Linked DNA regions of Homo sapiens: region 2 is linked to region 1. The links come from fine-mapping of genetic effects on gene expression. A gene starts in region 1. The other region holds a variant in brackets. All regions are shown on one strand. Distances are between the middles of the regions.

The links. PIP is the estimated chance that this variant, and not a neighbour inherited with it, causes the effect. A credible set is the group of variants that fine-mapping cannot tell apart.
Region 2: its variant is the best candidate, but not a certain one, in a credible set for the expression of VIP in spleen (GTEx, PIP 0.53).

Annotation. Positions count from the first base shown.
Region 1 is chr6:152,741,973-152,758,141 of GRCh38, forward strand. VIP (vasoactive intestinal peptide) reads left to right here and starts at 8,825. Exons shown (of 7, transcript NM_003381.4): 1 at 8,825-8,987; 2 at 10,196-10,312; 3 at 12,194-12,316; 4 at 13,297-13,401; 5 at 14,162-14,293; 6 at 15,124-15,212. The coding sequence starts at 10,206. The coding sequence ends at 15,169. LINC02840 (long intergenic non-protein coding RNA 2840) reads right to left here. Exons shown (of 5, transcript NR_183508.1): 5 at 12,904-16,169. It also overlaps a transcript of MYCT1 not described here.
Region 2 is chr6:152,709,480-152,725,648 of GRCh38, forward strand. MYCT1 (MYC target 1) reads left to right here. Exons shown (of 2, transcript NM_025107.3): 2 at 12,263-15,090. The coding sequence ends at 12,774. Among named protein-coding and RNA genes, the nearest start is that of MYCT1, 20 kb to the left of the region's middle. RefSeq lists an enhancer at 11,710-12,909. The variant T/C (reference allele first, on the strand shown) is at 7,709.

The DNA of each region.
Region 1 (16,169 bases):
ACAATAAAAGTTTTTTAAAAAGACTTGAGGTCCAAACCAAATAGAGTTGAAATAAGTACAATTTCAATCTCATTCACTCGCTCATCTGAAATAGTTACTGAGCACCTATTACGTGACAGCAACATGCTTTTGCATGCTAAAAGTGTCTGGCGATGGAGGAAATGTCATTGTATGTCACTGTAGTGATCCAACATGCTCAGTGTTAGGCTGGGGGAAATACGGGGTTAAACAAGGGCCCAAAATCACAGCACCTCACCCAAATTTGATGGGAGAATGGGTTACAGTCTTTCTGGAAAAAAATGTTCTACTGTAAGCTGAGACCCGAAGGATAAAAAGAGATTGGAGTAGGTGTTTCTGAGGGAGGAAATGGTATGTGTGAAAAGCCAGAGACATGAGAGAATACGGTACTTTTGAGAACCTGAAAGTTGTTCCACGTGGCTGAGAATAGATTGTGGGTGGATGGGGAGGGGACAATGAGGGACCATTGATGAGAATAGCGTGATCCAGGCTTGCAAGCCTGTTTCCTTCAAGAGCAATAGGGAACCACAGAAAGATTATAAACAAGGGAATGATATGATCAAAGACATTTTGGGGGAAGATCACTTTAGCAGCATTATGGAAAAGAGCTTGGAAGAAAAAAGGTTGTAACTAGTGGAACCCTATTTGAGTCTATAGAAGTTGCACAGGAGAGGGAGAATGGAGGCCGGGCCTTCTTTAGTGGATCCTCAGTTTTGTCATCCAAAGAACTTGGAATCCCACATTGATTTCCCCCATCACACATAATGTATGATTGTATATGTGTAAGTATGATTGTCAGAGGCAGAGGTCATTGATACCTGTTTATACACATAAGTATGATTGTCAGAGGCAGAGGTCATTGATATCTGTTTCTAGAAACTCTGATGACTGCAAAAGTGTTTCTCATTTCCTTAGTAAGAAAAATGCCAAGAATAGTCCTTGTGAATGTAGAGAAGAAAGAAGCACCCTGTGCCTTCTCTATCTAATACTTAGGCTCAGCACTGTTTTGACAGAAAAAGCGGCTTTCTCTCTTTCCCTCCATGGCATTTCGATTATTTTGTAGTTGTTGTTGTTGTTGTTGTTTTGACAGAATCTCTCTCTGTCACCCAGGCTGGAGTGCAGTCACATGATCTCAGCTCACTGCAACCTCTGCCTCCTAGGTTTAAGCAATTCTGCTTAATTCTCCTGCCTCAGCCTCCCATGTAGCTGGGAACACAGGCATGCACCACCACGCCCGGCTGATTTTTGTATTTATAGTAGAGATAGGGTTATGCCATGTTGGTCAGGCTGGTTTTGAACTCCTGGCCTCAAGCAATCCACCTGCCTCAGCCTCTCAAAGTGCTGGGATTATAGGCATGAGCCACTGCGCCCGGCCCTTGCGTGGTATTTCTTTGAGACACCCTAAAGGCACTGCAGCCACAGAAAGGAGTGTGGACCTAGGAAGCGACTCCCCGTTAGGATGCATCTCAACAACATTTCTTTTGGTTGTCATTTGGGGTAAGAACTATTTGCAAGCAAATGTAAATCACTGGATTGAACTGCCTGTTAACATCATCACTACACATTGCTCAACCGTCCCGGTAAATCCGGAGGGTCACAGCAGCAAGGCAACCATGCCCCACTCCCCACTCTCCATGCTCTATTCTGTGGGTTTTGAATTTGCTGGCCTCACAACCCACTTGAAGAGAAAGGTGAAAGGTCCAGATCTCAGCTCCGCTACTCATTGGAAGTCACTTGCCTTTTTTCAGTTATGAAGTTGCTAAAATTTCTCAAAACAAAGTGACAGGACTAAATTACCTTAAATTCTTTCTAGCTGAAAATGATGGTTTTATGAGTCAGAAATGAGAACATTAGTGTTCCAGACTTGGAAGTACAGGGAAGTAACTACAGATACAGGATATTAGAATATATGATTAAGAAGAATGGTGATTTTAAAAGCTTATCAAATAGCTGCAGCTCCTGCTTCCTTGACAGGGAGAGTTTCTTTCCTGAGGGCCAGGCGCCAGCAGCCCTGGAGACGCAGGGCCCAGTTTGCCTCAAGTCTCCTTCCCAAGGCTACTCTACACCTCCTCACAAAGACCCCATGAGGATTTGGTGTCTGGCTTCTGGCAGCACATTGACCTTTTCTCTGCAATTGTGTCAGCAATGGATCCAGCTTCTTTTCCTGGAGGGGACTCGAGGAGCATCAAGGGCCTGAATGAACTTCTAATGTATTTGTGTTTCAGCAGCAGTCTTCAGAAATCAATTGTTCACCAATTGGACAGACCGGCTCGGGGCTAGAGTGCCCTTCCTCCAAGTTCCCACATTGATTATTTTAAGAGTTCTTCCAACTCAAATGAAAAATACCAAAAATTTTAAAACATGCAGGCCTTCTGAAGCTATCCAATCCTAAAATTAAATATTGGGTGTGGGAATGGGAGTACACTAGGAAGGGTCCAGGAAGGACTCAAGGCTCTTTCCAAAGGTGAATTGAGGAGAGTTTAATAAAGAGGTAGAATTGAGGAGAGTTTAATAAAGAGGTAGAAGTAGTGAGGTAGCGAGTAATCCATGAATGAGCCTCAGCAGGGAGCCGTTGGCCCCTCTAGGGCTGCAGGAGAGAGGCCACCCTGCAGAAACTGAATCTTGCGGGAGGAATGTAGTCTCTTCCAAGCCATGGCCTAGGGGAATAAATACCCAGAACTCTCTTTCCCTCCTCTTTGGTCCTTTCATTTCCAACCAGCACGTCTCTTTTGCTGAGCCCAGCCAGCAGCCAGAGGACCAGGGTGTGGACGATGTAGTCCATAAAGGTCAGCCTTCAAGGAAATAGAAACAGTGAAGAAGAGCAGAGAGGGTTCCCAGCAGAGGCGGGAGCTGGGGGGAGAGCCTGTGGCGTCAGATCTCTCCCAAGAGTAAGCCGAAACTCAGGGCTCCTGGGAGGTCCTCTAGGGCTGAGGCAAACTGAAAGAAACAGGTTTAGCTTTAGGGCCAAGGAATGGGTTGAAGAAGCCTAAGGTGAGGAACCAGGTGGCAAAGTTGGAGACCAGCTGGAACAACTGAAGAACAAAGAGAGGGAGGGAGACATGTGGCCTCCAGGGTCAGGGCAGGCCTCCATCCTGCCCCCGTGCTCCATTCTAGGACAAATCTCAAAGTTACCAAGCTTCGGTCCCAGGGCCTCTTTGAAACTGGTTTTAACACTAAGTAGGATATAGGGTCCCTGGCAGGCTCTTCCCAGGCAAACCATGACTATACACAATTCAAGGCCATTGTAAAGTAATGGTGAGTATATATTTTCACAGGCCACAGAGTAAAATGAACACAAAAATTTGTTTTTAAAAATGTTTACCTCTGCCAGGTGCAGTGGCTCACACCTGTAATCTTGGCGGCATGGGAGGCTGAAGCAGGAGGATCACTTGAGCTCAGGAGTTGGAGGCTGCCTTGAGCTACAGTTGTGCCACTGCCATCCAGCCTGGGTTACAGAGACAGACTCCAAGTCTAGGGGAAAAAAAGTTTAACTTGATCATTTCTAGGTAAAGGCAATACTTTTCAGATTTAAAATTCTATCATTTCAGATTTTCTGTCATTTCAAATGTTGTCTTTCAGATTTGAAAAGAGGATTTGTCTCCTCTTTTCCCTCAGAGTAGCATCTAAGCTTCTGACAGAGCAATGTGAAATCTGGGAGGCTTCCTCTGGGCACTTTGGAGATGGTCTAGGGCTGGCTGTCATCGACTGAAATATGCAGTGACATCTGGTCCCTGGGTGTGGACACCCACGCTGGCTCTTGGTAGGTTGTTTAAAACCTGTCCGTTGCTAGGCCCTTTCCACTCTTTGTTCCTTGGATGGTATTTTGGGTTTTCCTAAGCAGGGTGTGCAACTATCATCCAGGTTTGTCTCCCGTACCATTATGCAGAGTGTTTCTCCATGATTTGCTTTGTCTTATGTCAACCAGATGTGAAATGAAGCCAAGTTAGCCTCTATTGTTCAGCCCCTACACTTGATAACACAGGGTTCTGTCATCCATCCCTTCCACTCTACCATAAACTCACACCAGCTTCCCCATCTCAGAGGCTCTTCCCTGGCCTGTGGAGAATAGATGTAGTGGTAGAGGGGCCATGAGAACTCACTCAGAAAATATTCTTGCCAAATCTTCATTCTAACATCTAGACTGCAGCTTTCTTAAGGTTAAAAGCCAGAAATTAGACATGGTTGTTTTTCATTTGATCCATATAGTAAACACAGAGGGTGATTGAGTTGAAGGCTGGTTGCATGGAATGTGTACAGTCATCTCCCAACACCCCGGCAGACGCCTGAAACCACTGACAGCACCTAACCCTACATAAACCATGTATTTTCCATCTGTCAACAAATTGGCTAAGTGACTACCTGGGAGGTAGCATAGACAGCACAGATATGCTGGACAAAGGGATGATTCACATCCCAGGCTGGACTGGGCAGGATGGCAGAAGATTTCATCATGCTATTTGGAATGGCACACAGTTTAAAGCAAATAAATGGTTTATTTCTGGAATTTTCCATTAATGTTTTCAGACTGCTGTTGACCACAGGTAACTGAAATCATGGAAAGAGAAACTGCAGATAAGGGAGGACTACTCTATGTGGTGGGGGAACATATACATAAGAGATGACATTGTGAAGTAGGTAAAATTGGTTTTAAAATCTTTAATACTCTATTTTTCAACTTCCACATCTTAGTATTGTGTGTTCCTGTGATTTCTCTATACCCTTCTTTTTGAAATCTATTTTCAGGAAATCGTCTGATACATACAACCCTAATAAAGTTCGAATGACTTGCAGCACTTGCATTGTTCTTTCTACATGTAATTTGATTTGAAGCAAAAAAATTCTGAGACAAAGGAATAATTTTCTCTAAACTCAGCATCAGTAAGTGGGACAGATAACGAGGTTTTGGAGTTAAGGGAGAAGTTGTCCTCGATCATATCATTTAGATCATTATTTGTTTTGCTTTATATTTGCTGATATATTTTTAGATTCCGAAATGAATTCTAATAGGTAACTTTAAAGGGAAAATTTACCTTTATTGTAATATTATTTTCATCAAATCACTAATATGACAAGAATACAAAATCCTGAAAATAAGTTCAAATTTTCTAATTTAAAAGAATTGAAAGTGTTTATATATACTCTAATATAGATGCTTTAAATATATAAACTTTTAATATGCTATACAAATATACGTATGTATATACATCTTATGCAAATGTACACTTTTAGTAAAAGTATACATGTATATTAAATGTATGTATATATTCTGTATGTTATACATATATACATGTATAATATATTGTATAGAATATATGTATTTATGTATATATAACATATACAGTACATAATACATTATACATTAGGTATATAAAATATATATACGCAAATATATATTTCCTAATACAAGTTATTGAAAGATATTGGATTTAAGACTATTAAAGCAAACATATCATCTTAAATATCTGCCAAACAGGAGGATCTAGGGGATTGAAAAACTTTTTTTGTGAAAGATCAAATAGTAATTATTTTAACCTTTGAGAGCTGTGCAGTTTGTTGCAACTATCCAACTTTGCCGTTGTAGCACAAAAGCAGCTATAGAGAATACATATATGATGAAATGCTTTTATGTTCCAACAAAACTTTATTTATGGACACTGACGTTTAAATTATATATAAGTTTTGGCCAGGGAGGTGGCTCACACCTGTAATCACAGCACTTTGGGAGTCCGAGGCAGGCGGATCACTTGAGCTCAGGAGTTCCAGACCAAAGCCCGACCAACATGGTGGGCACCAGTGGTCCCAGCTACTCTGGGGGCTGAGGCACGAGAATCGCTTGAATCTGGGAAGCAGAGGTTGCAGTGCACCAAGATTGCACCACTGTACTCCAGCCTGGATGATAGAGTGCATGAGACTCCGTCTCAAAATAAAATAAAATAATAACGTATAATTGTCATGTGTCACAAAAAGTTCATTTAATTTTTTTAACCATTTAAAAATATAAACATCATTCTTAGCTTGAGAGATGTAAACAAACAAAAACAAATGAATGAAGAAACAAACAAACAAAATCCAGAGGGGTCAGTCTATTTAGCTCACAGCCTGTAGTTTCCAGACCTCTGATCTAGACTTACCCACTCAGGATTACCAACGCAGACATTGGCTAAGTCTCAGGACTGGAGGTGAAATAGGGTGAATTAGGCAGGTAAAACCACCATAAAAAGAGGCAGAAGAGCACAAGCTTAGGCATTTAATCCATAATAAGAATATGGACCCTCTATTAGTATTTTGCACTAAAGAAAAAAAGGCAAATTTGGATTTCTGCTAATATCCTGAGCTTGAAAATCCCTTCCATCTAATTTCCTTGCATCCAGTATGTTTGAATTTAGAATGCCAGTTTTATTTCCCTGCTCTTGGTTCTGTTGGTGAAAAAAGGGGAGAGGAGATGCCAATATTTTTATGAGCTGTCAATTTCCATATCTGACCTGCTAGCATCAAAAAGGTGATAGCAACAATTACAGAATATTACCAATTCTAAATTGAAAGAATGCTGACTCAAAATCAGACGGTCTATCTTCCAATCTCGTATTTGTTATTAACCACCTGAGTGGCAAAAATTACTGAAACTTTCTGGAGATCAGTTTACTTATTTGTAAAAGAAGGATCTTGAAGATTTTTCTATCCATGTGAATGAATTATAGTTCCCCTTATTACAAACATCACTTTACTGAGAAGGCCTAAGGCAAAAATAAACTTTGCCAGAAATGTAGGCAAATTATGGAAGAATATGTCAAAGTACGGAAAAGACACATTTAAACAGTAAATTCAAGTTTGTATCTTTGTACTTATTTACTAAGTTTTATGGTAACCGAGAATTCAGGATAAATTTGACTGCAGTACTTTTTCTTATGTTTATTTTTTCTGGAAGCATCCAAAAGTTAAGCTGGCTACAGGACCTCTGGTTTACAATTCATTTCCTTGAAAGAAAAGAAGAAATAAACACAATTCTATAAAGTCTGTGAATTAAAACTTTGAACCTGCAGATGGTGCTATGATTCCATTTTCAAATTGTTTTGCTTTCTAGTTTAAATTCATAAGAGAAAATGCAGTTGTTTGGTTGAGTTTACTTTTATTCAGAGGTAATAAAATTGAATTATTTCTTTTTATTTTATCTTATTATTATTATAATAGAAGCAATTGTCTTTTGTATTGGGAAAAGCTACTATAGTTACTCTTTGTAAATGCTAAGTGCTTGCCTAGGCCAAATAATGATCAGCTTTACATCTTTTATGTTTAAAATTTTTCTTCTTATCATTCAGCAGTCATTTGTCTGTGACCCTCAATTAAGTTGCTTTGCTGTTTCTGCTCTTAAATAAAATTGGTTCACTAAGAATTGGGTGATGAAGAGCTAAGGATAAAAAAATTCCATATGAGAACTGTTTCAACCTCTAGTTTGTAATAATCAGGTAAAAAAGATTTCCTGGAATTAAGCCACAGGAACTCTGGCTTAAGTCAGAGCTGTCAACTGGGAAACAAATTTCCAGACATTTTGAAACTTAATTCATTTAATTTTTCTGGTAACTGGATTAGAAAATATGATTAAGCATAGCAGGATATTCTTTTACTGGATCAGTCTGACTTTGAACGAAGGAAATAGATACTACAATCTTAAAGTAGAAGAAAGAGGACTGTAAAGCCATTCTGTCTTATGAAACTTAGAAACAAAATGTAAAAATAATACACATGGCAGAAAGCCTTTAAAATAAAAGGAAAAATGGCATTTTCCTCTGTTGTTTAGGAAATTTTTCATGTGGCTGCATTTTTACCTTAAACTCTGATTGAATGTGTGCTAGACTACCTTTAGTTACAAATCCACAAATAGAAGTGAAGTATTTATCAAAGTACTATATAAATGCTTTTCAACTATTTGAAGCCACCTGTCAAGTGATTGAATCAGAAATGTTCAAAACTGGTTTGAGTATGTGTGTGTGTTGGGGATGAGGGTAGAAAACTAATTCTACATTATGCAAAGACTTATAAAAGTGATGAGGAAAATCTTTAAAAAGAAAAGACAATTAAATTCCTTGAGGTATATAGCCTGACAACAATTTATTTTTTGGATCATTTGACACAGTGTATGTAAAAGTGCATTGGGAATTGTGCCATTTTATACAAATATGAAATAGCACTACTTGTACTGCTTTGTACAACAGCGTGCATATCTTACTATCTTAGAGACTTTCTGAAACACTTATCTTGGAATTAGTTTCAACAAAGACGAAATGTAATAATAGGAAGGTGAAAATTATCTCTAGAGCTTTTAAAGTTAGGATAGATTTCAAGAAAGATTAAATCTGGAACTATATGAATAGCATAAAAATTAAAAATATTAAGAGAATTGATACTTTGTAATAAAGTATAATTATACTTTTATAAGCGTAATGAACATAAGTGTTTGTTGCTTTATGCATTTGTTTCTACACATGAAGTCTTTATTTTCTGAAGGAATCCCAATGGCCCTGGCTATAACACTACAATCATTTTCTTATTTTACAATTAATTAAAGGTTAAAACATTTCACATTGAGCTTGCTACTTTGTTTGTTTAAAGAAAAGTAAATTTCCTCTTATCTTACATTTTGAAGTTGCTCACTATAAACTTATATAAATTAGGCATAATGACAATTAAGTAAGAACTTCAAGCCCTATTCATCCCATGGCCGTCATACTGTGACGTCTTTCAGAGCACTTTGTGATTGCTCAGTCCTAAGTATAAGCCCTATAAAATGATGGGCTTTGAAATGCTGGTCAGGGTAGAGTGAGAAGCACCAGCAGGCAGTAACAGCCAACCCTTAGCCATTGCTAAGGGCAGAGAACTGGTGGAGCCTTTCTCTTACTCCCAGGACTTCAGCACCTAAGACAGCTCCAAAACAAACCAGAACAGTCAGCTCCGGGGGAGCACGACTGGGCGAGGTAAGTGAAAACTTTACCTTTCCTCTTCTTTTTCCCTCCTGCCTCTGGAACTTTTCTCACAAAATAATGAATTTTTCTCTCTTGAAAAGAATTTGATAGTGCTTTGCTTTTGCAACAGCAAAAAACAAGTTTCTCAAGTCACCTGGTAAGGATAGAAATACTTCAATTTCTCTCATATGGATAGATTTTCTGAATTCTTTTGTTTGTAAGATGCTTTACCCTGCTTGCTCTTTTACTGAATACTGATTTTTACAAATAATTCATTCAAGTAAAGTTTACTTGTATGTAGATTTTTGACTGAAAATTTCAGTGGGAACATTTGCTTTTGAAATTTTCAACTTATTTTTAAAGTGCTTTTTTTTTCCTATTTCGTATGTTGGTTAAGTGAATCTAAGATGCATTTATTTTTTCCTTAAGTTTAAATTCCATAATTTTTATAGGCAGCAAGAGAAACAGACCTTACTCCTAGGCTTTTAATCTAGAAACTAGAAATGAAATGTGTAAGTTGATTAAATGCAAGAAATGCAAGCTTTGCTTTTAATATATATTTTCCTCTTATGGAAAAATTTATTTCAATGACAACATATGATTCAGTAATATTTTGAGTATTAATATTCACTACTGAGTTAAGAAGTTCAAATCCAGGTGTAAGGAAATAAGTTTCCGTAATATCTACAATTGAAAGAGGAAAAAGTAATGTATATACAAAATCTTTTTTAAAATTATATGTATATATACACATTATATTTATACATTTGCACACACACGAGCAGAATAATTATTAAATAGATGATACTCTAGTCTTATATTAGTCAGATACTGAAATTTTAAAGCAGAAGAAAATCAATGTCTTGAAGCTGTTTCCTTCGTCAAAAAATACACTAAGCTTGAGTGGTACATCCCTGTTATGAAAAGATTGTCCCCAGGGTTATTTCCAGCACTATAGAAGTATGGCATTCAATAGATACTGGGGCCAACCATGTGCCCAGACAGCAGGTGAAAAGGATTCTAATTTTTATTCAAGCACCTGTCACTGAGAGAAATACTGATTTTTGAATGTATCATCTTGCAATTTAACTCTTTCTACAAGATGAAAATTACTCTTTACAAACTCTGCAAGAGCCATTGAAAATTACTGCTAGACAATCAGAATTACCTTGCTGGTGACATCTTTGGCTGGAAGAACTGAGGTGATTCTCTCTCTTTAGAGGCACAGAAATGGACACCAGAAATAAGGCCCAGCTCCTTGTGCTCCTGACTCTTCTCAGTGTGCTCTTCTCACAGACTTCGGCATGGCCTCTTTACAGGGCACCTTCTGCTCTCAGGTAAGTTCCCTTTCAATTCAAACATCTGAACATTCCTTCCTCATCTAAATGGGAATTTCCTATACATTTTGTTGGACAACTAAATAGTATAAATTATGTATTATGTATTTAAATTTTTCCTTGATGTGTTGAGTGAGAGGTGTTTGTCAACATCAGGTCATTCTGAGTCCTGGAATTCACTTTCAGGGCATGAGAGACACTGTCAGTTATTAGTTTTATGGGCTGAGTGGATCACATTCCCAAACATGGTGAAAGGAGGCTTTCACTTTCTTTTTATTCAAAACCATCTTTAGATAAATAATAAGCTTTTATCCATTGTTATCTCAAGTCAGTTCAATTTCTGGTGGAAAAAAGCTGTTTAGTTGCCAACCACATTTGAGTTTATTTTCAAGATTAATCAGTAAATAATCATAAGACTAGTAGTTGATTAGTGAAACATGTATAAAATCATGTTGCACAGAAATCTATCTAGGCAGAGTCAATTTGCCAATATTAAATATGGGGTAATTGATCTATTGAGATACACTCCCCCAATAGGAAAATTTTGATATACTTTGTTTGGACCATAAATCCTTAGTTTTATTGTTCTATATGTTATATTATATATTCCAAATCCATAAAGTATAACACAACTCTTATTTAAAACTTTATTAATGTATGCTAAAGAAGTAAACAATAAATGAAAACTATATTAGCTTGAATTTTCCTTTCAGTTTACGGGCACCACTGTATCTCCAAAGGAAAAATAATAATTGGGTTGGTTTCCTTCTTTGCTTATTAGGTCATTCTTGATTTTTTGCTTAAGGTAGACTTATGCTCAACAGAGAGAATAACCTCTTAGCTATTAGTGTTCTCTGTGAAATCTGTTTAAATACAGCTCCTGCGTTGCTTTGATAACTAAACAAAATGGTTCTATCTGAATAGTTCTACCACAGCAGATGAACAATCACAAGAATGTGGACATTTGTGTTGATTGCTAAGCTTCAGACCCACAGAGGACTAGTTGCTAGTGACTCCCAACTCCCAAATCACTGAAAGATACACAAGTGTCCAGGAGCTGACACGCTCCTTGGATGTTTGCCCTAACAGTGAAAATCTGCACACACAAAATTATAAGAGTTGCCGGTGATTGAAATATGCATGCATCCATAAATATAGTCATATTCCATATATGCATTTGACTATTCTTAGTCTTTCAGTGTAACATTGTACATCCCTTATTAAAGTTGTGTTAATACATAAGATTAGAAAAAAGAAGGCCCCATAAAACTTATTGAATTCAAATTCATCTTCATAGATGAGCTATCCATCTATGGAGACATTCTTTGAACTCTGTCAATACAGAGAAATATATAATGCCAAAGTAAATATTTGAAGCAAAGCTTGGGGGTCGAGAGAGAGAGAAGCAGTTAATACTCTGTTCTTCAGAGATGTTTGGAACAGGTAATACTGAACATCACCAAATCCATAAATTGTTATCAGTTCTCATTCAATATTAGTTTTTTGCAAGTTTCTATTTTGCATAAAATATTTCTACATACGAAATTTGACTTTGCAAAGTGAAGATATTCTTGGCATAGTAAATTACACCAAAGAAGTATAGTTTGCTTAATGCTCTGATAAGATTGAATTAAGTAGCTCTTGTGTTTTGTATATTCAGCTTATAAAAGTCATATGGCATCTACTTTATAGGATAATAGGAATTTCCTATTTATACTCTCATTAACTATATGAGCCATTAAGTCAAATTATGCTATTCTCATATTATGACTGGGTAATACTTCCCAAGAGTCTAAGTATCTTATTTTAAATGGTTGCGGAACCATACACACTGTCTTCTGAAAAAAGAATGTATTATTCTCGTGTAACTTTCCCCATCAGGTTGGGTGACAGAATACCCTTTGAGGGAGCAAATGAACCTGATCAAGTTTCATTAAAAGAAGACATTGACATGTTGCAAAATGCATTAGCTGAAAATGACACACCCTATTATGATGTATCCAGGTGAGTTTATTTTTATAAAACTATCCAATGAGTTTTATTTTAGAAAATGTGTTTAAGAACTATAAACGTGCTTATTTTATCTCACCATGAAGCTATTCCGATAGCAAAACACTAGAGGTTTCTATGTGTCATGGCTTCATTCATCCTGATTTACTGCAGATCTTACAGCTGTACATAATTTTCATACTGAAAGGTTGTAACAAGCCAGGATGAACACACCATTCACTTCCATTCTGTTGCACATAATTCCAACATCACAGATTGTACCAATTCTGATAAAAGTACAGCATTTAGCATTCCAATGATGGAAGAGTTGCCAAGGAGTTTTGTCTCTATATAAAGAAAAGATACCTGATAGAGCTGTTCATTCATAGAGCTGTTTGTCTAGAGCATCATTTCAAGTACAGACCAAGTAGCTCTATAGTACTTGGTACAGACAAAGTATAAAAGGTGCTTCATTTGAAAGAGAAAAGGTGGGATGATAGGCCTTAATGCCTTCTCTATCTTAAGAGATTTTGTTTCCAAATATTTTGGAAAAAGAAAAAAAAAGGTGTACTGGGGTTTATGAACTTTCCAAAATCAGAATATTTTCCCATTGTGAATGTCTTTATTCAGTGGGGCAGACACAAAGCACCATGTACAAATAGCAGCTAATTTAAATAGATCATATTTTTACACCAATATTTCTTAGAAAGAAATAGTTATAAAGATTCAACCATGGAGGAATATTGAAATGTGCTCCTAGAAATGCCTGTTTCTTTAATTTTTCAGTGTCTTGGGCTAGAAATATAGGGTATATCTTGATATAAGTGACTAGAAGATCTCTTTTGTTAGGGTGTTAAGAAATCTCCTTTTGAACTTTAGTTTTAATGAGAAGCTTTCATAATAAGCCCATAATTTTTTTGTTATTTAATAAGCCATAATAATATTCTAGAAAGCCATTTACAAAATAATAGCTATTTTTTTCTTCCTTGTTTTAGAAATGCCAGGCATGCTGATGGAGTTTTCACCAGTGACTTCAGTAAACTCTTGGGTCAACTTTCTGCCAAAAAGTACCTTGAGTCTCTTATGGGAAAACGTGTTAGGTAAAGAGAATTTATTATTTTTATAAAATATGTTATCATTATTCAATCTGAATATTGTATTTTCACTCTTAACAAGTTATTTACTTTGTTTGAAATTGAAAACTCGTTGATAATGTTTAATTTAGTTAAATGAAATAACTTGTATTCTTCAATAACATCTATCAAGCCCATGGACTAAGACTTTTTCATAATATCATATTCATTGACTCCAGACACACATTTTTCTCAAGTAGCAATCATTTAGCAATCTGCAATCAAATTGAACAAGACTCAGTAAAACAATCAAAAAGAGATAGTACAGACTGAGGTAAATTTTAAGGTCAAACAGAATATTCTTTTTACTTCCTGCTCAAATTAAATGGAGAATTCCAAATGGCCAACAGTCAAATATTTAGATGACGTTGCTCAGGGTAGCATAGCTTCTAAAGAAGTAATTATGTTTTTTTTAAAAAAAAAAAAAATTTCTCCCAATGGCAGAGCACAACTTCAGCTATTCCCAAATTTTTATTTTTGGATGAATTATTTGCTCAGCTGTACAGAATGTGTCATAAAACAGTCCCAGGCCATGCCAAAATATGGCAGATGATTCCTTGCTTTCCTTCATCCTTAGGTTTAGTTGTATTTTTCTTTTAGTCTTTTTATGATAGAAAATTAGTTGGGTGGGAATTGCTTTTTATGTGGCTCCAAGAAACCTGGAACATGTGTGTATTTATCATTTCTTGTGAAAACTCTTTGATTTCCTTTTCCTCATGTTCCTTAGCAGTAACATCTCAGAAGACCCTGTACCAGTCAAACGTCACTCAGATGCAGTCTTCACTGACAACTATACCCGCCTTAGAAAACAAATGGCTGTAAAGAAATATTTGAACTCAATTCTGAATGGAAAGAGGAGGTAAAGAAAAAGAGAACTTGCTAAAATGAGGAATCATGACTGACTTTCAAAATAGAAGCTGCACATGGAGACCTCTCTATCTCACTTATCTAGCTATACTACGTGAAGCAGTGATTTTCAACCTTGGCTGACATTAGACTACCCCGCAGAACTTTAAAAATACAGATGTCTGGGCCTTCTCCCAAACCAATTGCCAGGAAATCGGTGTCTTCGGTGGTGTGGCCCTAGACATACATTTCTTTTAAGAGTTCCCCAGTTGACTTTACTATGCTGCCAGTGTTAAAAATGATGACTATACAGACATCTAGTCTGAATCTAAGAGCAAGTTTCATCAAAAGTGATGATTTTTAAAACATGTAAAGCATAGTCAATTGCAATTTGGTAACACATGGAACTCACTTCGTGTGCATATTCACTACTGTTATTTAATCAAATTAAACCATTAGGTATTTTGTATATTTAGATTCTGTAAAATCTATATCTCTCTATGGTGTGTAAATATTGGACACAATACATAAACAGTGTAGTGTTCTGTCTTTTTATTCCAATTGTTTTTGTTTAAGTGATGAGTATTAAGGATAATTCTGTTTGGGTGTGATCAGACAAGATGACCTCTTTGCCCACTAGATGATAATTCTGTGAGAATAATTTTAGAAACTCTAAGATTGATGAATAATTCATAGGTACTAACAAACCTCAAAGATAATTGTTTAGCCTCCCCATACACTTTCAGAGCACAGAGAACAGCACATTCATTATGTCATAATAGTTTCTTTAGACCCTTTCTCATCTGAGAGCCTTAATATGTACAATGTTTTTCTGGTCTGCAGCAGTGAGGGAGAATCTCCCGACTTTCCAGAAGAGTTAGAAAAATGATGAAAAAGACCTTTGGAGCAAAGCTGATGACAACTTCCCAGTGGTGGGTATATTCGTGCATTCCTTCTGTATTCTTATGGCTGTCTCTGATTATATAAGTAGCTAAGAGTCACTTAGTAAGAAACATCTTAGGGTTAAATAGTTTCTCATCATGAGACCTCATCCAAGACAGACACTTCTACAACAGTGGACCCCAACCCAGTAAACAGCTTAGAATGATTCATGAAATTTTTTTGATCTTGTAAAAGAGAGCACTCACAATAAGCAAACGTTTTGAGATCTGAATAGTGTTCCTGGCTTACTTGGGGTTATTTCTACCTTTGTATCAAGATAAAAAAACAGAGGAGGCTGACTCACACTGACAAGAAAAATGGGCTTTCCTTTTGAGGATCGACCCATGCTGCTTTTATTAATTGAAGGTTTAGTCTCACAATTGACTGTTAGCTCCTCAATTAAGTATAGGGAAATAGCACCAAATTAGAGCATGGCCCATTACTATGAAAATATCAAGGCATTCTGGGTCTAACTATATTCCTTGAAACATGGCAAACTTCATAGAGCAAAAGTTAAATTTAGCTTGTTTTACCTGTAAGTTTGTTTTACCTATATGACTCTAATAGCATTCTCTGCCAACATTTTTTTTGAGCAGAAAAAACATGGATAGACTTTTTTTCTTTGTGAAGTAATAAGCTTGCTATCAAAATTGATTTTATATAAATGTGGGTTCAAGACATATTTCTTTCCTGAGTTACATTACATTAATATTCACATTCGCTCATAAAAAATCTATAATACTGGGCAAGTGCTTAAAGAAATTTCATGCTGTCACCATATCAAAGGTTAGCAGATTTTAAAGGGCTATGGAGTAAAATATGTTTGGCTTTGTGAGCCATCTATTTTCTGTTAGAGTGACTTAACTCTGCTATGGTAGCACAAAAGCAGCCACAGTTAGATGTAAAACGAATAGGAGTGACTGTGTTCCAATAAAACTTTATTCATA
Region 2 (16,169 bases), 32 kb before region 1:
TGTAAAAGTGTTCCTATTTCTCCGCATCCTCTCCAGCACCTGTTGTTTCCTGACTTTTTAATGATTGCCATTCTAACTGGTGTGAGATGATATCTCATAGTGGTTTTGATTTGCATTTCTCTGATGGCCAGTGATGATGAGCATTTCTTCATGTGTTTTTTGGCTGCATAAATGTCTTCTTTTGAGAAGTGTCTGTTCATGTCCTTCGCCCACTTTTTGATGGGGTTGTTTGTTTTTTTCTTGTAAATTTGTTTGAGTTCATTGTAGATTCTGGATATTAGCACTTTGTCAGATGAGTAGGTTGCGAAAATTTTCTCCCATGTTGTAGGTTGCCTGTTCACTCTGATGGTAGTTTCTTTTGCTGTGCAGAAGCTCTTTAGTTTAATTAGATCCCATTTGTCAATTTTGTCTTTTGTTGCCATTGCTTTTGGTGTTTTGGACATGAAGTCCTTGCCCACGCCTATGTCCTGAATGGTAATGCCTAGGTTTTCTTCTAGGGTTTTTATGGTTTTAGGTTTAACGTTTAAATCTTTAATCCATCTTGAATTGATTTTTGTATAAGGTGTAAGGAAGGGATCCAGTTTCAGCTTTCTACATATGGCTAGCCAGTTTTCCCAGCACCATTTATTAAATAGGGAATCCTTTCCCCATTGCTTGTTTTTCTCAGGTTTGTCAAAGATCAGATAGTTGTAGATATGCGGCATTATTTCTGAGGGCTCTGTTCTGTTCCATTGATCTATATCTCTGTTTTGGTACCAGTACCATGCTGTTTTGGTTACTGTAACCTTGTAGTATAGTTTGAAGTCAGGTAGTGTGATGCCTCCAGCTTTGTTCTTTTGGCTTAGGATTGACTTGGCAATGCGGGCTCTTTTTTGGTTCCATATGAACTTTAAAGTAGTTTTTTCCAATTCTGTGAAGAAAGTCATTGGTAGCTTGATGGGGATGGCATTGAATCTGTAAATTACCTTGGGCAGTATGGCCATTTTCACGATATTGATTCTTCCTACCCATGAGCATGGAATGTTCTTCCATTTGTTTGTCTCCTCTTTTATTTCCTTGAGCAGTGGTTTGTAGTTCTCCTTGAAGAGGTCCTTCACATCCCTTGTAAGTTGGATTCCTAGGTATTTTATTCTCTTTGAAGCAATTGTGAATGGGAGTTCACCCGTGATTTGGCTCTCTGTTTGTCTGTTGTTGGTGTATAAGAATGCTTGTGATTTTTGTACATTGATTTTGTATCCTGAGACTTTGCTGAAGTTGCTTATCAGCTTAAGGAGATTTTGGGCTGAGACGATGGGGTTTTCTAGATAAACAATCATGTCGTCTGCAAACAGGGACAATTTGACTTCCTCTTTTCCTAATTGAATACCCTTTATTTCCTTCTCCTGCCTGATTGCCCTGGCCAGAACTTCCAACACTATGTTGAATAGGAGTGGTGAGAGAGGGCATCCCTGTCTTGTGCCAGTTTTCAAAGGGAATGCTTCCAGTTTTTGCCCATTCAGTATGATATTGGCTGTGGGTTTGTCATAGATAGCTCTTATTATTTTGAAATACGTCCCATCAATACCTAATTTATTGAGAGTTTTTAGCATGAAGGGTTGTTGAATTTTGTCAAAGGCTTTTTCTGCATCTATTGAGATAATCATGTGGTTTTTGTCTTTGGCTCTGTTTATATGCTGGATTACATTTATTGATTTGCGTATATTGAACCAGCCTTGCATCCCAGGGATGAAGCCCACTTGATCATGGTGGATAAGCTTTTTGATGTGCTGCTGGATTCGGTTTGCCAGTATTTTATTGAGGATTTTTGCATCAATGTTCATCAAGGATATTGGTCTAAAATTCTCTTTTTTGGTTGTGTCTCTGCCTGGCTTTGGTATCAGAATGATGCTGGCCTCATAAAATGAGTTAGGGAGGATTCCCTCTTTTTCTATTGATTGGAATAGTTTCAGAAGGAATGGTACCAGTTCCTCCTTGTACCTCTGGTAGAATTCGGCTGTGAATCCATCTGGTCCTGGACTCTTTTTGGTTGGTAAACTATTGATTATTGCCACAATTTCAGAGCCTGTTATTGGTCTATTCAGAGATTCAACTTCTTCCTGGTTTAGTCTTGGGAGAGTGTATGTGTCGAGGAATGTATCCATTTCTTCTAGATTTTCTAGTTTATTTGCGTAGAGGTGTTTGTAGTATTCTCTGATGGTAGTTTGTATTTCTGTGGGATCGGTGGTGATATCCCCTTTATCATTTTTTATTGTGTCTATTTGATTCTTCTCTCTTTTTTTCTTTATTAGTCTTGCTAGCGGTCTATCAATTTTGTTGATCCTTTCAAAAAACCAGCTCCTGGATTCATTGATTTTTTGAAGGGTTTTTTGTGTCTCTATTTCCTTCAGTTCTGCTCTGATTTTAGTTATTTCTTGCCTTCTGCTAGCTTTTGAATGTGTTTGCTCTTGCTTTTCTAGTTCTTTTAATTGTGATGTTAGGGTGTCAATTTTGGATCTTTCCTGCTTTCTCTTGTAGGCATTTAGTGCTATAAATTTCCCTCTACACACTGCTTTGAATGCGTCCCAGAGATTCTGGTATGTGGTGTCTTTGTTCTCGTTGGTTTCAAAGAACATCTTTATTTCTGCCTTCATTTCGTTATGTACCCAGTAGTCATTCAGGAGCAGGTTGTTCAGTTTCCATGTAGTTGAGCGGCTTTGAGTGAGATTCTTAATCCTGAGTTCTAGTTTGATTGCACTGTGGTCTGAGAGATAGTTTGTTATAATTTCTGTTCTTTTACATTTGCTGAGGAGAGCTTTACTTCCAACTATGTGGTCAATTTTGGAATAGGTGTGGTGTGGTGCTGAAAAAAATGTATATTCTGTTGATTTGGGGTGGAGAGTTCTGTAGATGTCTATTAGGTCTGCTTGGTGCAGAGCTGAGTTCAATTCCTGGGTATCCTTGTTCAATTCCTGGGAACTCCCTGACCCCTTGCGCTTCCCAGGTGAGGCAATGCCTCGCCCTGCTTCGGCTCGCGCACGGTGCGCACACACACTGGCCTGCGCCCACTGTCTGGCACTCCCTAGTGAGATGAACCCGGTACCTCAGATGGAAATGCAGAAATCACCCGTCTTCTGCGTCGCTCACCCTGGGAGCTGTAGACCGGAGCTGTTCCTATTCGGCCATCTTGGCTCCTCCCCCTGAAAGAGTATTTATTTCACTACTATACTTAAGGGATACTTTTGCTGGATATAAAATTCTGAGTTGACAGCTTTTTTAAAATCACTTTAAAATATCACCGTGTCTTATTAAAAGTGAGTATTTAAATAATTGTCTTTTATGAATGTAATGTTATTATTATTTGTAATTTGGCTGTGTTCAAGTTTTTTTTGTTAACCTTTGATCTTCAGCTGTTTGACTATGACGTGCATAGTTCTTTATATATATTCTGCTTGATGTTACTGAGACTCTTGATTTGTAGATTAATTTGTTTCACTAATTTTGAAAAATTTCAGCCTCATTTATTCAAAATGTTTTTAGCTCCATCCACCCTTTCCTCTGTTTGGGGGATTATAATTGCACATTTGTTAAATATTTTTATATAGTTCCACAAGGCCTAGAGGCTTGCTTTTTCCCCCCAATATTTTTCTCCATTTTTCAAATTGGATAAGTTCTATTAATACACCTTTAAGTTGGCCGATTCTTTTCTCTCTCATTTTAATTTCACTGTTAAGCTCATGGTATAAATTTTTTAGTTCTCATTTTTTTAGTTTTAGAATATCCATTTTGTTATTTCTTATAGTTTCTATTTCTTTGCTGAAATTTCCTATCATTTTATTCATTGTGAGTGTTTTACTTGAAATCATTGAATATGGACATATGAGTTGCTTTAAAATTTTTGTCTGCTAATTATGTCTGGATCATCTTAAAGTTTGTTTTTGTTGACTGTCTTTTCTCTTAAGAATGGATCACATTTTCCTGTTTCTTCATGTGCCCAGTAATTTCATATTGTATCTTGAACATTTTGAATGGATTCTGCTATATTACCCTGAAGAGTGTTATGATGTATGTTTTCCCCCTAGTTTATTTTCACAGGCAAATAACTCTGTGGAACTACAACTACAGAAACCTATAAAGCCTGTCCCTTGGGCAGCAGCTTAAATCTCACTTTAGTTTATTTTTTTTTCTCTAGTGCTGTTTGGAATACATCCCACGTATGTGTGATTCAGGAGTCAACCAAAGATATGTGAAATGTTTATAAATAAAATTTGGGGATTCTCCTCTCTGGCTTTCTCTTCTCCAGGATTTCCCTCTCACATTCTCAGCAGCTCTTGTTTCCACAATCTCTGTCCTTTGTTTCTCAAGATCAGAAACAGTGCAGGTTTTCGACTGTAGCTTTACCTGTCCCAGACTGGAAGCTTCCCTCAGGTTAAAAGGTTTGAAAACTGGAGCTTGACTAGTACTTGCTGTTCTTTTCTTCCAGGTCTCAACTCCTCTCCAGTAGCTACAAGCATTTGGTCATTCTTAAGGCCTTTAGGTAGAATTTTTTTTTATATTGTTTTCAGTGTTCATAGTCATTATTACTTGAAAGGGTCAGTTCATAAAAGCTGATTTGGAATCCTAGCTTGATGTTTTTATTGCCTGTATCTGTTCTAATGTCACATTTCTTACTCTTGATATTGGTGATTTTCTCTTTCTCTCTGTCTCTTTCTCTTGCTCCTGCCCACTCTTTTTCCCTCTTTCTCTTTCTCTCCTCTTTCCATCCTTGTCGTTCCAATTAGTATTTTATTCATTTTTATTAGATTTTTTTCATATCTGGCTTTGATAATTTCCTCTATTTTTTCTTTTTCTTTTTTTTTTTTTTTTGCCCCTGTTTCATTAAGTTCTGCTTTCTCTTATTTACTGTATGCTACTTTACTTATGTTTCAGCTAGTGATCTTTTCCTAGCTTCTTAATATGGAAACTGAAATAATTGTTTTTGTAGGCTTTCTTATTTTAAAATGTATACCTATAAAGCTATAAATGTTCTTATGAATGTGGCTTTAGGCACATCTCACATGTTTCGATATTTCACAATTTTATCAGAATTCAGTTAAAATATTTTATAATTTTCATTAGGTATTTTATTTAATTTTCTTTATAGATCCTCAATCTCTGCTGAAAATTTTTAACTTGTTAATTTTTTAAACACATTAATCAAGTTATTTTAATATTTTTGTCTGATAATTCAAATATTTTCATAACTTACAGATATTTTTCCATTTTCTATTTGTTCTTTTAGTTTTTGTTTACTTTGTCTTGCCTCTTAGGATGACTTGTAATTTATTATTTATAACACATATATATATAACATTATTAGGTATATATAAATTTATTTAAGTATATAACTTTCTATTTCATATATATGTATAAAACTTTCCTTCTGGCAGTTAGGGGAAGATCACCTCAGTCCAACTTGGGATTGATCTATATTTTTATCTTTGTGAGGTCTGGTCTTTCTCCTGTTTACCATTAAGCTTAGGGAGTAGATCCTAGGGGGCCTAATTCCAGATTCTGGGATGTTTCCTAGGGTCCAACTTCCTTGGCAGCCCCTGAACACCAACTTATGTTTTCTAAGCTTACTTATAGTGCACAGCATTCTACTCAGATATTTTTGTTTCTTTTTACAGATTATTGTGATGAAAGATTTTCTTTTCTCCTGGAATTTGCTCCTTTGATTTAATAGTTTTGATAAGTCTCTGATGGCTTCAAACAAATTTAAGAAAATATTTTATTCTCCATTGTACGCTTGCTCTCATTGGTTTGATACATGTTAGTCTATCATATACAGAAAGGGGTGTGCTACCTTGATACTTTTGAATTTGCCCTCACCTCTAGCAATACTGTTAACTAATTATATTCAGAATATGGCTTGTGCTTTATAATTTTGATCAAAACTACTTTCAAATCTCCAAGCCTTTTGTTTATTTGACCACTACCATTCACAAAAAGGCATCTACAATTTATTTTTTCCATGAAGCTTTTTTAAACCTTCCAGATATATGTTATCCTCCTATCTTTCAAACATAATGACATTTTCAGCTCATAATGGTTATGCGTCTCATTCACATTTTCTTAGAGTATAAATTAATGAATGTAGTTTCCATTAACCAGGAAGGAAAAAAGAAAAACAAGAATTCCATTTAGGCTTCAGAGGTGGGACAGGGTGTCATTTTAGGTGGAGCAGCCAGGGTAGACCTCAATGAGAAACTTACATATAAGCAAAAGACCTGAAATTAACCATACAGATAGCTGAGGAAATAATTTTAGGAATAGATTACAACCAGGGATGGGCCCTAAGTCAGGAGCCAGCCCATCTGATGTACTTAAGGAATGGTGAGGGGGGAAGTGCAGACAGAGCTCAGTGACCCAAAGGAAGAGTAGAGGAGATGGGCTCAGATAATTGGGAGCCTATCAAGTAGGGACTTTTAGGATATTCTTAGGCATTTGTTTTTACTCTGGGAGAAGTGGAGGATTTAGAACAGAAGATTGATATGATTTGACTTACATTTTATAATGTTCTCTCTGACTACTGCATTGAGCACATTGTTGGGGTGTGAGGGATATGGCAAGGACAGAAGCAGGAAGACCATATTCCAGGTCACAGATGTGGGAATGTGGCCACTTGGATCAGTGAAGTCGCAGAGTGGGTAGTGAGAAGTTGAATTCTGGATTTCTTTTTGTTTGTGAAAACAGACCCAATAAGATGTTCTGGCACATGAGATATAATGGAAAATACTCCTCGGCTGTTTAAATTATTATAATCAATCAAATTTCTATGCCCTAAATATTATTCTCCCTAAAAGCCCTTTTCGTCAAAAGTAGTTCTATTGCCTGAACCATTCTCCTATACACTCTATGATACCAAGGACTTCATGGCCTGCTTTGGTGAACATTGAACTTATGATTCTTAACAACTGCAAAGGGTTTTTGAATGTTTTAAACAATGTTACATTCTGCCATCACTGATAAATCACTTTCAGAGTTGGAATGCTTCAACTCAAGGCCACTAGATGGTGACCTCTACTAAATTTTAATACCAGTGGATGGAATTTGAGGTATTGATTATATTTACTAAAAATCATATTCAATATTACAATATTAAAATTGGAAGACACGAACGTGGCTGTTATTATCAGGCCAAGAAGGGTCAAATGACTTGAGGAAATTACACAACTATTAGCAGTAAGAGCCAGTGTTCGTTGAGGGCTTGTTATGTGCCATCTACTTGCTAGTTTTGTAGGTACGTATTACAAATTAGGATGACATATATTTAATTTATATGGCATAGCTGACCAATGTTAGAGTTTTTTCCTTCTGCTTTCAAAAGGAAAGTTAACATTTTTAAAAGTAATCATTTGGTCTCATAAGTTGCATTATATTGCAATTATTAAGAAGAAAGATTATGGCTCATTTTTCTTCTCCTTAGATTGTTGAGAAGTAAGAAGGCATATCATTTTTTAAAAAGTAATATCTTTGCCAATGTCTTTTTTTTCAGTTACATTTTCTTCTACACTAGGTTTTAAAAAAGGCTCCCAAAATACATTGTCAAAAGTCTGCCAGAATGGAATTACATATATGAAAATTTAAAGCTGTATGACCAGTAGATGCTGCTTTCATCACACAGTTTCTAAATTCTAGTTTGGGCAGGTCAGAAAAATCATCAACTATAATTAAATGAAAAAAAAATGTG[T/C]ATGAAAACCACCCCTGTTATTTGACTCAGCATCTCTTTCTTATTGCCTTTCTGCATTTCTACATTTGCCTTTGCTGTTTGGACTTAAGGGAGCTTAAGAAGATAGATAAGTATTTTACCATATACCTCAGGAAGTCTTAGAAATTCTTCTGTCAGCAGTATTATTTGTAGGTGTTTTAATATTCTGCAAGGTATAAGAATTAGTGCAATGATTTCTGATATGGTTTGGCTGTGTCCCCACCCAAATCTCATTTTGAATTCCCACATGTTGTGGGAGGGACCCGGTGGAAGGTAATTGAATCATGGGGGCAGGAATTTCCTGTGCTGTTCTTGTGATACTGAGTAAGTCTCACGAGATCTGATGGTTATTATGAGGGGGAGTTTTCCTGCACAAGCTCTCTTCGTCTGCTGCCATCCATGCAAGATGTGGCTTGCTCCTGCTTGTCTTCCACCAGGATTGTGAGGCCTCCCCAGCCATGTGGAAATGTAAGTCCAATTAAACCTCTTTCTTTTGTAAATTGCCCAGTCTCAGGTATGTCTTTATCAGCAGCATGAAAACAGACTAATGCAATTTCTAAAGTGTGTATTTTACTGACTTTATGGATTAAGAAGTCGTTTTCATGATGCGTGTACTCTACTGAGCAAAAATTAAACAAATCCATATCAAAAGCAATTTTTTTGTAATTTGTATAATTTCCGTTGCACCCCCATCTTATCCTACTTTATATTCATTCAAAATTTAAATAGCCTATTATTGTGTGTATATATTATTATTATGATTCTCACGTACATTTTAAATTCATTATTTAATCCTTTTTGGATATCTATATAACCCAATATTTGATGACATTTTAAGTCATTTCCCCAAATTTTGGGCATAGACAATAGGTTTACCATATCAAATCAAAGTATTACCAAGCCACAGAGAATGATCATTTTAAATAGGTTTGTTGTCAAATTCCTCTCATGGAAATATTGTTATAGTTTTAGTGCCACAAAAATAATCTTTTTAGTTCCCAAACTGAAACTTGTCATTTAAGAAAATTGTGATGGTCCAATATATTCTATAATAACTTGCCCATTAGAGTTTGGATATTATCCTAGTTTTCTTACATCAGAACAATAATGTATTTTGGAAATAAAACAGTCATCTGAAATATAAATATATTTCTCACTCCATGTATTTTTGTTGTTTTTGCTAATATACTCAATTGCTGTATTTTATTTAATTAATTTATTTTTACTTTTTGTAGAGACAGGTCCCATTATGTTGCCCAGGCTGGTCTGGGCTCAAGCGACCCTCTCACCTCGGCCTCGCAAAGTGCTGGGATTATAGGCATGAGCCACTGCACCTGGCCTCAATCACAATAATAGACAAGAAATTATTTTTCATTGATTGTGTATTTAAATAGTTTCTATTTTTTTCTCGAATCTAAAGTTTGCTATTATTCCACTATAAATAACATTTATATTGGGAATATCTGATTTGTCAGAAGATGAGAGGCTCAAAGGGCGTACACAGAGACCATGTACAAGGACTCTTGTAATCTTTAAATACTTTCATTGAGTAACTGAATATATTTTCTCCTTTCAGATTCTGGTTTTAACTCCATTTTGCTGAAATCAAGGAAACATCTCTTTTTACATTTTATCTATTATGCCTGCTTATATACTGAGATATTTAGAGTCTTCAGTCAGACTCTAGTAGTGGTTAGGTACATTTACACATAGGAAGGACATATACTTTGTAAATTTGAGTATTTGTCTTCTCATTTGTATCATACACTAGTGTAACTAATAGTTCCCTAACCACCGATACTTGCCAATCAATTATTACAATAAATCAAGTGTTAATTCTACCACATGAACCTTAGCTTCTGTTTCAATATCTATAAAATGAGGAATTTATGTCCAACACATTTTCAAAAGCTTGTTTTAGCTGAAACTCCATTTCTATGAGTCCATAGCTGAGCTTGTTGATATTTAAAAGTCTCCACTAAAGGCTATTGATTCATGGAAATATATCTGTAGAACACACAATATTATTTAACCACCATTCTCTCAAGTATTTCTGTTCATAACAGGCTGCAAGATACTCTGGTATTGAATCGACCAATTTTTATGCAATTTATATTGCTCATTTTCATTTTAGATTAATATTTTCTTACCTTACACTTAGAAAATAAATAAGCAATTAACTATGAATTAAGATGCTTTGGTCTCAGATCCTTACTTGACCTTCACCAGGTGTGGGACTATGGGCTTGTTACTTACCTCTCAGTAGCCACAACTATTAAATGGGAATAACGCTAGCATTTCCTTTATTGGGATGTTTGAGGATTAAGTGATATAATACACTAAAAAATGTGCCTGGGAACTTTGCATAAAGCCATTGCTTTAGAGAATGTTGATATAATTATTTGTACAGATAATTGTGAAAGTAGGACACAATAAATGTAGCTTTTCCACAGGAGATAAATGTGACAATATATGGTGGAAGGACACTGAACTATATCCTAAAATTAGACAGCAGTGATTATTCCTTTGTAGTTATTAACATTAGTTTGTTTTGTTATTTCTGCATTCTAGGTAGTCTACATATTATAGATTACAATATGCTAAAAAGAACCTTGGCAATCATAAAATCTAACTCCTTTATATATATGTATAATGAAATCAGTGGGTCTAAACAAATTCCCTAAAAATCACAAAACATATTAGGAACAGAGCTGAGTTTGGAACCCTTTATCAGAGAGCTTTTGCCATGTAACAATCCACCCCCAAACATAGTAGCTTAAACTAATAATAATTTGCTTAGCTCACAATCCTGTGGATTGGTAATTTGAGATGAAATCAGCTTGGTGGATTTTCTGCTGGTCTTTGCTCATGTGTCACAGTCATTTGGTGAGTTGACTAGCATCTGAATTATCTAGGATGACACCATTCATATGTCCAGGTTAGCAGGCTCTTGGCTAGGGCAGTAGGGGTTCCTGGGCCATGTGTCTCTCATCATCTGGCAGGCTAGTCTGGCCTTATTTATATGCTGACAATGGCAGGGGTCCCAAGAGAAGGAAGGGTGGATGCTGAGCCTCTTGTAGCTTAGGCTTGAACTTGTATAGCTTCAATTCCATTGCATCCTACCGTCAAAGCAAGTCATGAAGCCTGCCCAGATTCAAGGGGTGGGGAAATAGACTCTATCTCTTGATGGGAGGAACAGCAAAACGTTTGTGGCTATTTTCTCCTCCTCTTCCCCAGTCTCACAACACCCATCAGCTAATTTTCAGGCTATGGCTCTCTCAATACAGACTACCTACATAAGCAATTAGATATGATAGCTTACCTTTCTACTTAGCAGTAACTTATTTTTGTCTAGGAAATGTAGGAGTCTTTACTGAAGATGTGATACTTGAAGGTAGAGCTTGAAGAATGAGTTTTCCAGACAGAAGCTTAAAAAATTGAATTCAGATAAAAGGACAAATATGTGGAAAAGCTCAGAGTTTTAGAGAGAATGACAGGCTTTGGTACAGTGAGAAACGAGCATGACTTGTGGGTTAGATCATGGAGGGGAAACGTTGGGGACAAGGGGTTTGATCATGGAGGGGAAATGTGGGGGACCAACAGGCTGGAGGAGTCTTCTAATACCCAGAATTTTTCTTTGCAAAGTGGTGTGGTGAGGGGAGACTCAGTTACCTAGTTTCATTCAAGAATATGTATTTAGTTTACAAGAGGCAGTAAGGTAGCATTTCCATTAGGAAAAGGCATTTTTCTCCCCAGAAAGGGAAATCTGAACAAATTACAAGTTCTACAAATTACAGAATACTGGTACGTAGCCGAGGCTCTATGGAGGTTCAGGTGACAGGAATTTCATCATCACAAGGGCGTAACAGAAGCATGAGCTGGAACCTGGGAAACAAGAAAGAGCCCAGTAGTCTGCACAGGTCAAGTCATCAAAGAGTCAGAGATATAGGTGACTGTCTGGGAGTTCAGGAAATATGACATAAATCAGTCAGCTGGCCAGATGGTTCTATCCCAGCACTTCCTGTCTCAGAAAGAGCAAAGGAAGTGAGGCATCATGAAGACTGCAGGTGGCAGAAATCAATGTGATTGATGAAAGCAGACAGAGGAAAAGGCAACATCAAAGTGATGACAAAATTCTTTATCAATCTGGCACATTAGTTACTACTATAACTCAAAAGGAAATCAACTTTGGGCTACATTTGCAGCTCTGTAAAAAATGGATGAACTAAATGCCATAAATTAATGACATCAAGTAAGACTACTTTTATCTTTTATTTCTTAAAGATGATAAAACAGGTTAAGTGACCTGGAATGCCGCAGCTGAAAGTGTTATTTTGTATCTTTCTGCTTGAATAAATGGAAGCATTATCAGCTTCCATTTGTTCATATCCACCTAACACTGTCTTCTATTTCCCTAATTCAAAGTATGTTTAAATTAATCATGTATTCTTTGAATTACAGTATATATGCTGACCCTTGTTTTTAGTTGAAAACCTATTTAAAAATTGATTTAGCAATTTGTTTTCTTTGTTTCAGAGGACCTTATCATGTCCTTCACTGTATCCATGGCAATCGGGCTGGTACTTGGAGGATTTATTTGGGCTGTGTTCATTTGTCTGTCTCGAAGAAGAAGAGCCAGTGCTCCCATCTCACAGTGGAGTTCAAGCAGGAGATCTAGGTCTTCTTACACCCACGGCCTCAACAGAACTGGATTTTACCGCCACAGTGGCTGTGAACGTCGAAGCAACCTCAGCCTGGCCAGTCTCACCTTCCAGCGACAAGCTTCCCTGGAACAAGCAAATTCCTTTCCAAGAAAATCAAGTTTCAGAGCTTCTACTTTCCATCCCTTTCTGCAATGTCCACCACTTCCTGTGGAAACTGAGAGTCAGCTGGTGACTCTCCCTTCTTCCAATATCTCTCCCACCATCAGCACTTCCCACAGTCTGAGCCGTCCTGACTACTGGTCCAGTAACAGTCTTCGAGTGGGCCTTTCAACACCGCCCCCACCTGCCTATGAGTCCATCATCAAGGCATTCCCAGATTCCTGAGTAGGGTGGCTTTTGGTTTTTGTTTCTTTCTTGTCTTGTCTTTTATTGAAAGGAAATCAAAAATAGGCTAAACAGAATTTTGAGGGCATGGCCCAAATAACTCATGAGTTCCAAGTTGAAACATGGTTGTGCAAGTTGGACATTACAATGTAAAACACATTTTCTTCAAACACGTTTTCCCTTTTGTTTCAAAAAATGTAATATTTTCCCCCAAGCGTTTTATATTTATGTATTTTGTATTCAATGTGAGGCTTATTAAAAATAGTGATTCTAATGTAAGAATCAGCTAAGATGCATTATATATATTTTAATTAAAATTAAAACTTCAGATATTTGTGGATTACAATCCTCATTTACTTCCAATGTGACTAAAAAGAGAAAAAAAATCACTGTGTCACTTTAAAGAAAAATCTTCTAAGGGATTTGGATTTTACTTTCTTTAGAATGACAAGTGAATCATATTGACATTTTACAATCTTAGATTTTTCTTTTTTTTTCTTTTGAGACAGGGTCTTGATCCGTCGCCCAGGCGGGAGTTGCAGTAGCATGATCAGGACTCACTGCAGCCTCTATCTCCCAGGCTCAAGTAATCCTCCCATCTTAGTGCCCCAAGTAGCTGGGACTACAGGGGTGCACTACCACACCGGGTTGAATTTTTTTTTAATTTTAGTAGAGATGAAGTGTCACTATGTTACCAAGGCTGGTCTCAAACTCCTAAACTCAGATGATCCTCCTGCCTCGGCCTCCCAAAGTGCTGGAATTAGCCTGGCCAATCTTGGATTTTTAATGGAATATGTGGGCACAAAATGACAGAACATAGGACATTCTAAAGTTCCTTGATTTGATCATTATAAGAAGTGTGGGACTCAAGCACAGGAAACTGAACTCTTTTGGTGTCATTGGATGTTTCATTTTTGACACTAATTTTTTCTGGACAAACTCTTTATGTGTTTTTCCCAAGAATAGTTATCTACTTCCTGGAGGCAAAATCCTTGGATTTACTAACATGATGATTTACCTTTTCTTCACCGTTGTCGTTACATTGTTAGAAAAGCAACAGGAAAAAATCCAATTCATTTGACCTAAAAACAAGCCTCAAGTTTAAAACCAAGCTCACGTTTTTCTTAAGGGAAAAATTTTCTTTCTTAAACTTACATCTAGCAACTTGGAAAGCACTTTCTCTGGGGATCTTCTTTTGTAACTTTGCAGACAAATAAGTATGAGTCACTGGGGAGAGAGTTTGTTATTGAAATAGATGTTGCCCATGAAGAATTCTCCTTCCTGGATTGACTCTTAATCATCAGGCATCATTCCTGGTTTGCTTCTCTACGAATCTCAATTCCAACTTCTCTGCAGAGTCTGTACAGTGATTAAGCCATGCCAGATGGTCTTTGGTGCACACAGTTATTTAAGAATCCACTTCCACAGGTGGCTGCCCTTGTAAGGAAGAATGCATCCCTAAATGTGGCCACCAGAGAGTTCCAGTGGGCAGATGTCTGTGGCTGCCCTTCTCATTTAAGGACATGAGTTCACTGGAGTATTACTCAAAAAGTCTGTGGTTCATTTCCAGTATTGTGAATATTTAGTTTATGTGGCCGTTTCTTTGTTTCTTTGAACAGTGGGATTTTCAGTGAAAAAGTACCCTCTTTTTCATTTCCTATTGCAGTGGTCACAGCTAATAGTGTCTGAACATGGTTCAAGAATAAGAGATTCCATGTAGCATTTTCTTTATTATTTTCATTTCCCTTATATTATCCATCATTCCTTAAGGACAATTATTCTTAATAATGCTTATAGAAAATGTTCTCTAATTAAACATGCCAAAAGGAAAAAGTAAGAGAAAGAGGGAGCAAGAAGAAAATGGAAGAAAAAGGGAAAAAAGCTAACCGGATAACCAATTTGTTATAAGTTGGTTTTCAACAAAGAAATTTAGCAGCCAAGTAAGGTTTCAAGGGAATATTAACTTGGTATCAGGGCTACTTTTTTTTTTTTTTTTTTACTTGCATGTCATCCTTAATGTCTAACATGAAAAATCAGCAAAGAGTATGGTTTTTATCAAGAATTTGTGTTGGGAGTAAAAACTGCTTTATAGCTCCCAAATTAGGAAGAGAAGAGCAGAAATCCTCTGGGGCATTTAACCATCTGGCAGAATTGTTGCTGCACCCTTATCCCAGTTATAAGACAGTCAAAATGACTATTTCCTAAATATTGTGAGTGTATGAAATGTGAAATTAAAGCAAAAACTGGAGACTTTTAATGTATTTCTTTAATTTGAAATGTTTTGTGGATTGTGAAATAAAAATAAATTTATGTCAAGTTTTATTCAAAATTCATTTATGAAATAATGCCAACACTGTTCTAAAAAGCAAGGAGTCAAGAAATTATAAAATTCAGATTAAATCAGGAAAACACATTAGATGGAAAATTATACTATAGAATTTGAGCTTATTAAAATTTATTGCATAAGAAAAGTCTCCTTTTTACTTTGGTATTTAAACCTAACCTAGACTATTTGTAAATGAATAGACTGAGACACAAATCCTTTTTCATATAAAAATGTATAATGGAGAAAGGGAACATCACAAATAAATTTTACAAGATTTTTAAAATTAATGCAGATGGAAGAATTAGTAAATTATTTATTTAAAACATGAACTTAGAGTCTTATCTCATTAGCTAAATACATAATTACAGAATTATTTAATTATTTTATTTAGGGAATAAGCATTTTAAATAATGGCTATCTAAAAAAATAGAGGAAATTTGAAATAAATGTTTAGCAAATCTATGAAATAGGAAAGGGGTACTTTTTAAGAGCCAAAGGGATGAAATAAATTACAAAGGAAAATATTAACAGTTTTGATTATTTAAAAAAATTTAAAATTCTGTTCATTAAAAGATAAATTTATCCAAAATCTAAAACAAGCAAAAACAAAAAAAGAAGAAAGAAGTTAAGTTAATATAAATATGGCAAAAATGGCCAATATCTTGAAGTCATGATTAGCACACATAAATACATATGGAAAATACTCAGTTGTAAATAGATAAATTAGTAATGGACCAAAACAAGCAATTCACCAAAGAGAAAAATTAATTGATTTACAAGTTTGTGGTAAAATACTGCATGTTACTACTAAGAAAGTGCCCATGTACATTTAAACAACACTCTAGTAGTTTTTTCTATCACATTAGCTAATTATTATTATTATTTGAATAAAGACGGTGTTTTGCCAAGTTGGCCAGGCTGGTCTCAAACTCCTGGCTTCAAGAGATCCGCCCACCTCAGCTTCCCAAAGCACTGAGATCACAGGTGTGAGCCACCATGCCCGGCCCACAATAGCTAACTATTTATGAAATAATGAATCTCCTCACTGCTGGCAAATGTACTAAGAAGG